Regions from separate parts of the Homo sapiens genome. Here region 1 is linked to region 2. Evidence: fine-mapped expression QTL. A gene starts in region 2. The other region holds a variant in brackets. All regions are shown on one strand. Distances are between the middles of the regions. Region 1 overlaps LOC105369322 (a long non-coding RNA gene). Region 2 holds the start of CCDC86 (coiled-coil domain containing 86).

Evidence for each region. PIP is the estimated chance that this variant, and not a neighbour inherited with it, causes the effect. A credible set is the group of variants that fine-mapping cannot tell apart.
Region 1: its variant is the best candidate, but not a certain one, in a credible set for the expression of CCDC86 in whole blood (INTERVAL, PIP 0.62).

What each region holds. Positions count from the first base shown.
Region 1 is chr11:60,820,307-60,823,206 of GRCh38, forward strand. The region is part of intron 2 of LOC105369322 (a long non-coding RNA gene); the gene reads right to left. Among named protein-coding and RNA genes, the nearest start is that of CCDC86, 20 kb to the right of the region's middle. The variant T/G (reference allele first, on the strand shown) is at 1,720.
Region 2 is chr11:60,840,882-60,843,781 of GRCh38, forward strand. It overlaps CCDC86 (coiled-coil domain containing 86), which reads left to right and starts at 1,232. Exons shown (of 4, transcript NM_024098.4): 1 at 1,232-2,001. The coding sequence starts at 1,244. It overlaps CCDC86-AS1 (CCDC86 antisense RNA 1), which reads right to left. Exons shown (of 2, transcript NR_182293.1): 2 at 925-1,099. RefSeq lists enhancers at 322-1,521, 1,428-1,657.

The DNA of each region.
Region 1 (2,900 bases), 21 kb before region 2:
CTTTGCTTTTAGCTGCTAAGAATTACACACAATTCATGTTTTACCAATCACTCCTCCTGGTGACGTAGCTTCACTTTTCAGATGGGAAAACTGAGACCCAGGAAATGGGGATCTGCCTGTGAATGTTCTTCCTCATCCTGGGACCCCAGTTGTGTGTGCTGCAGGTGTCTGAAATGTCAAAAGCAAGACCCAGGCTCCAGCTCCCTCCAGGAGACATGAGGCAGCCCAGCCCACAGCCCACCTGCCTTCTGAAGCCAGCTGACAGGGCAGCAGCAATTAGTGAGGCTCCCTCCTTCTGAAAACTCAGGGGTGCCATGGCAGAGCCCAGAGGAGCCATCCTGGTAGGCTGAGACCCTGGGCAATGCCCACCCCAGCAGAGAGAAGCTCTTTTTCCGGGGACAGCCAACCATCTTGGGAGTAAGTGGATCACCCAGTCTCCACAGACCTGTGCAGCCACTGCCAATCCCAACAGTGATGCAGTCAGTAGAATTTATGGGGCCAAGGGTACATACCAGTGGAGGGACTGTGGAGCAGCAGGGAGGCAAGACAGAGCTGCTGGGGTTTTCCTTCCTGGCCTCCAGCCCTGAAAATTAGCAGCAAAGGGCTGGGGCTGCCACTGCCCTGGAAAGCACTGCTTGAATCCAGGATACGAGAGCAAACCTATGTCCCCCTTGCCAGGCCCCAGGAGCTGGGTACCATCGCTCTAAGGCAACTCTGGGGTGAACCGGGAGCTTTCCTTTTCTGATGCCGCACCCCTGCATCAAGGCTCTCCTCATTGTAGCTGATTGGGTCTTGGTCAGTGGTGAGACCAGCACGTGTGGGCAGAAGTCTGTGCCTGTCTCCCGCTGATGTCAATGTGGGCAGCTGAGCAGAGAGTATGGGCCCAGCCAGGCACTGGAATCCTAGCTCCTCCGTTCTCTGCATGTGTGGCTCTGGGTCCCAGTTTTGAAAATGAGGTCTCTTTTACCTTGCCGTTGAGCACGAAACGATGGGAGGAGCGGAGCCTGCTGGGAGAAGCTACTCCTCTTGGGTGACAGAGAGGTGGAGTGTTGAGGGTGAGGTCAAAGTGCTGCTCTCAGGTCAGAGAAGCCTATTTGAGACAAATGATCGCAAACTTCTGGGCTTCAGCCTAGGCTGAGTCAACCCTGTGCCCTGGAAGGACAGGCTTGCATGTGCGGTATGGAGGCTTAGGGAACATGGGCAGAGGCAGGCTCCGATCCCACTCTGAGACCCCAGCTTCGTCCCTAGAATGCCATGAGCAGGGTGCTGCTCCATTCATGGGTGTGGTGAGAGCTAAATGACTTGGTGCACAGAGCAAGCTCGGTGCACTCAGGGCCAGCACCTTGGAGGTAACCAATGTGTTGGGCTTGATGCCTGAGATGGCCCTCACCCAAGCTTTCTAGGGTTCTGCAATCCTGCGGTGCCCCTGGGACGAAGAGGCCTGGTTCTGCGCCTGCCCTCACTGGCTGGGGAAGTTGGCAAGGTTCTTATTCTCTCCAGGCCTCTGTTTTCTTGGCTGCCAAGGAAGGAGGTGGATGGGGAGTTTGTCTAAGATCCTTTTCGGCAGAGACATGTGCACAGAGACCTGCCCAGCCACTCAAGTCCTGGGAGACACAGCCCCAACCCCGAAAGCCCAAGGCTTTAGCTCTGCGCCCTCCCCCCTCCACCCCCAGGCCCTGCAGATCATTATCAGCTGCTGGCAACTGGTGGCTGGCAGGT[T/G]GGGGGGCGGGCCGCATCCTGGCTGCCTCCTCGAGCTCCACCGAGTTCCCCACCACTTACTTGTACCCGCTGGCAGGAGGAGTGCTCCTGAGGACCCTGGAGATCCCACTTGGTGGTGGCCCAGAGACAGAGAGGACTGCAAAGACCAGGACTGCAGATCCTCCCTGCACCCTTGGGAGGGAGTTTGAGTCTGTGAAGTGGGAGTGAAGCTGCAGGGGGTGGAACTGTTCTGAGCTCGAGGGGAAGTTCCAGGCCCACCCCACATGGGATTGGATGGCCCAGGGGAGGCACTGGGCTGTTGAGGCGGCCAGCTAAAGAGCTGAAGCTGGTTCACAGCGTGTGGTGGGGGGAGTCGTGGCAAAGGGCCTCTGCCCCAATATATGCAGCCGAGGAAGGAGAAAGGTGGTGTCCCTGGGGACTTACCCCGAGGGTAACACTCAAGTCAAGGCGCTCAGCCACTACAATGAAACAAAAGCCCCTGGGACTTGATTTCTAGATCCAGATCTATCACTTAGCAGCCCTGTGACTTAGGCAGGTTGCCTCCTTCTCTCAGTCTTAGTTTCTCCATCTTCAAAATGAGAGACTAGTCCCTCCCACCTCCAAGCATGGGCCAGAGACCAGCATCTTTGGCATCACCTGGGAGCTTGTTAGAAATGCAGAGTCTCAGGCCAGCTCCAGTGGCTCAAGCCTGCAATCCCAGAGCTTTGGGAGGCTGAGGGGAGGATCTCTTGAGGCAAGGAGTTTGAGAACACCTGAGCAACATAGCACGACCTTGTCTCTACTAAAAATAAAAAATGTTGATATGCAACAAGATATAAAAAAGGAAAAAAAAATTAAAAAGGAAAACTAGCTGGGTATGGTGGTACATACCTGTAGTCCCAGCTACTCAGGAGGCTGAGGCAGGAGGTTCACTTGAGCCCAGGAGTTGGAGGCTGCAGTGAGCTATGATGGTGCCACTGCATTCCAGCCTGGGCCAGAGAGCAAGACCCTGTCTCTTAAAAAAAAAAATGCAGGCCAGGCATGGTGACTCACGCCTGTAATCCCAGCACTTTGGCAGGCCGAGGCGGGCAGGATCACGAGGTCAAGAGATCAAGACCATCCTGGCCAACATGGAGAAACTCCATCTCTACTAAAAATATAAAAATTAGCTGGGCATGGTGACACAGACCTGTAGTCTCAGC
Region 2 (2,900 bases):
GAAGATGAGGACACTCTGATCCCTGATATTCTTGGACAATTTCCCAGGCCCTCTCACAAGCCCGCAGCTGGAGAAACAATGGTTTCTAAAAGAAACCACTGGAATGTCAGACGGGGCCCTGGGACCTTTAATGGCCAACCCCAGGCAGTTCCAAGAATTACACAACTGGGCCACTTCCAAGATGTTCTTCCTAAGAAGCATGCTGTAAGTAAATCAAAGCCCCACTCCTAGGTCTCACACGAAAGTCTCCACAGCCCCACATTCCCCAACCCCACATCCCGAGAGTCTTCTCTAGGCCTTGGGAGGTCCAGAAGTCAACACCTGCTCACTGGTGAGGTCCCAAAGTGCTTAGTAAGCAAAGTACATTTACAGGTGAATAGCAAGGGAAGGGAGGGGAGGCGAAGCAGGTTCACACACGAGCAAAAACCACTGTCTGGGCTGAAAGGAAGATCGGAGATGATCCAACCCGTTTCTAGAACTGGGGTAGAAGAAGAGGGACGTGGGAGGATATGCAGCTGGTCGAGGGCCCAGGTGAGCCACAGGACAAAGGTGGTGCATCTTATTGGTACCTCAACTTCCCTCACAAACGTTGAAAACGCTGAAAAGGGAGGGAGAGCTATGGATTATATACGGAAGCACAGGACGGAAGAATCAAGAGTGTGAACAATTAACACAGAAAAGACCGATCTTCCACCTCCAGGACCCCCAGGTAGCAGTCCCTCAGGTAGGTGGGAGGAGGACTCTGACAGGATCATTTGGGATGCACGAAGCTAGTGCAAAATGACCCCTATTACAAATGAGAAAACAGGCCCAAGGAGGGCAGGACTCTGCCCAACTGCACCGGAGTTGGCTGCAAAACATCCACTGGGCCTTGCCTATGGGCTCCTCGGACCTTTTTTCGACTCTGTTCTCTCCCTGAAATGGGTCCTCCCACTTTCCCTTTTCTACTTGCTCGCTCTTCTTTCCCCAGGAAACTTTGCAAGAAAGGCAAAAGCGAATCCCAGGAAAAAGACTGGCTCATCAATCACATGTTGACTGCGCTCGCGCGAATTGCGCATGCGCATGCTGAGCCCCACTCTCCCCAACCCCGGTCCCGCCTCTCCACCCCTCACCAACATGGCCGCCTCAGCAACAGCCCCCCTCCTGTGCGTCACGGACGCGGCGACTCCTGACGTCATAGGAAGGCGCCGGTTTCGGCGGGGGCTGCACGTGCGCAGGGGTGTGGAAACTTACCGGCTGAGCCATGGATACACCGTTAAGGCGCAGCCGACGGCTGGGAGGCCTAAGGCCCGAATCCCCCGAGAGCCTCACCTCAGTTTCGCGGACGAGACGGGCCCTTGTGGAGTTCGAGTCGAACCCAGAAGAAACGAGGGAGCCCGGGTCTCCTCCGAGTGTGCAGCGGGCTGGCCTGGGGTCCCCCGAAAGGCCGCCGAAGACAAGCCCAGGATCACCCCGTCTGCAGCAGGGTGCAGGCTTGGAGTCACCCCAAGGGCAGCCAGAGCCAGGCGCAGCGTCCCCCCAGCGTCAGCAAGACCTACACCTGGAGTCGCCTCAAAGACAGCCAGAGTACAGTCCTGAATCCCCACGATGTCAGCCGAAGCCAAGTGAGGAGGCACCAAAGTGTTCTCAGGACCAGGGAGTACTGGCCTCGGAGTTGGCCCAGAATAAGGAGGAGCTGACCCCGGGGGCCCCCCAGCATCAGCTACCGCCGGTCCCAGGATCACCAGAGCCTTACCCCGGTCAGCAAGCTCCCGGTCCGGAGCCCTCTCAGCCACTACTGGAGCTGACACCCAGGGCACCTGGCTCCCCCCGGGGTCAGCATGAGCCGAGCAAGCCACCTCCAGCTGGGGAGACGGTGACAGGCGGCTTCGGGGCAAAGAAGCGAAAAGGTTCTTCATCCCAGGCCCCAGCGTCCAAGAAGTTGAATAAAGAGGAGCTTCCTGTAATCCCGAAGGGGAAGCCCAAATCGGGGCGAGTGTGGAAGGACCGCTCCAAGAAAAGGTGAAGTGGGGGACAGCATGGACAGGGGTGGCGTTCTCTATGGTGTTGGGACCCCGCCTTTGCCCTGCTGCAGCCTGGAGAATAGCCCCAGGGTTAGAGAGAGCTCACGTTAGTGGGGATGTTAGCAAACAGGTAATTACAATCAGAATGTGGTAAAATGCCCTGGGATCCCGGAGAGGGTGGGGCCAGGCCCTCAAAGATCAATTTCTCTGATGCCTTTCCTCCTCAGGGTCCCTATGGGCCTCTCCTGTAGCACCTCAGGTCTGTATTCGTTCAACAGACATTTACCGTTGTCTGCCCTCTCTAGTGAGAGAAGCAGAAGCAAGTAAACCAGCCATTACTTGATCAAAGCAGTGAGGTCTTCATCCAATATAGTCTATTACAGTTATTTGCCTTTAAGATAAAAAGTATTACTGAGCACTGATTATATAAGGATTTACCAGTCAACAGCCTTAATAAGGATTTACCAGTCAACAGCCTTTCAAACATGGAACAGCATGTGTCATCACGCTTAATCTGCACGTCAGCCCTGTGAAGCAGGCGGTGTTATTATTCCTGTTTTTTGTGTGAGGAAACCAAGGCTAAATGAGTGGTAGGCACAGGACCTGAGCACAGATCTGATTCCGAAGCCTGTGTGCAAAAAACCCCTTTACCCAATCCCTGTAGATCCACCTTGAATTGGATTGCGACCTTCTTAAGGGGCAGGCACGAGATCTTTCTTGTCTTTCTGTGCCAAGGGCATAGTAAATGCCCAATGAATGCTTATTTAATGAAGGAACGAAGTAGCTCATCTGAAGAAGGAAGAGTGTAGGCTGCCATGAAGGAGAGGTGTGGGATTCAGTTCCAATTCGAGCTAATGGGAACCACAGGGGAGAGTCAGGGATGTATGCCTGTGAGGG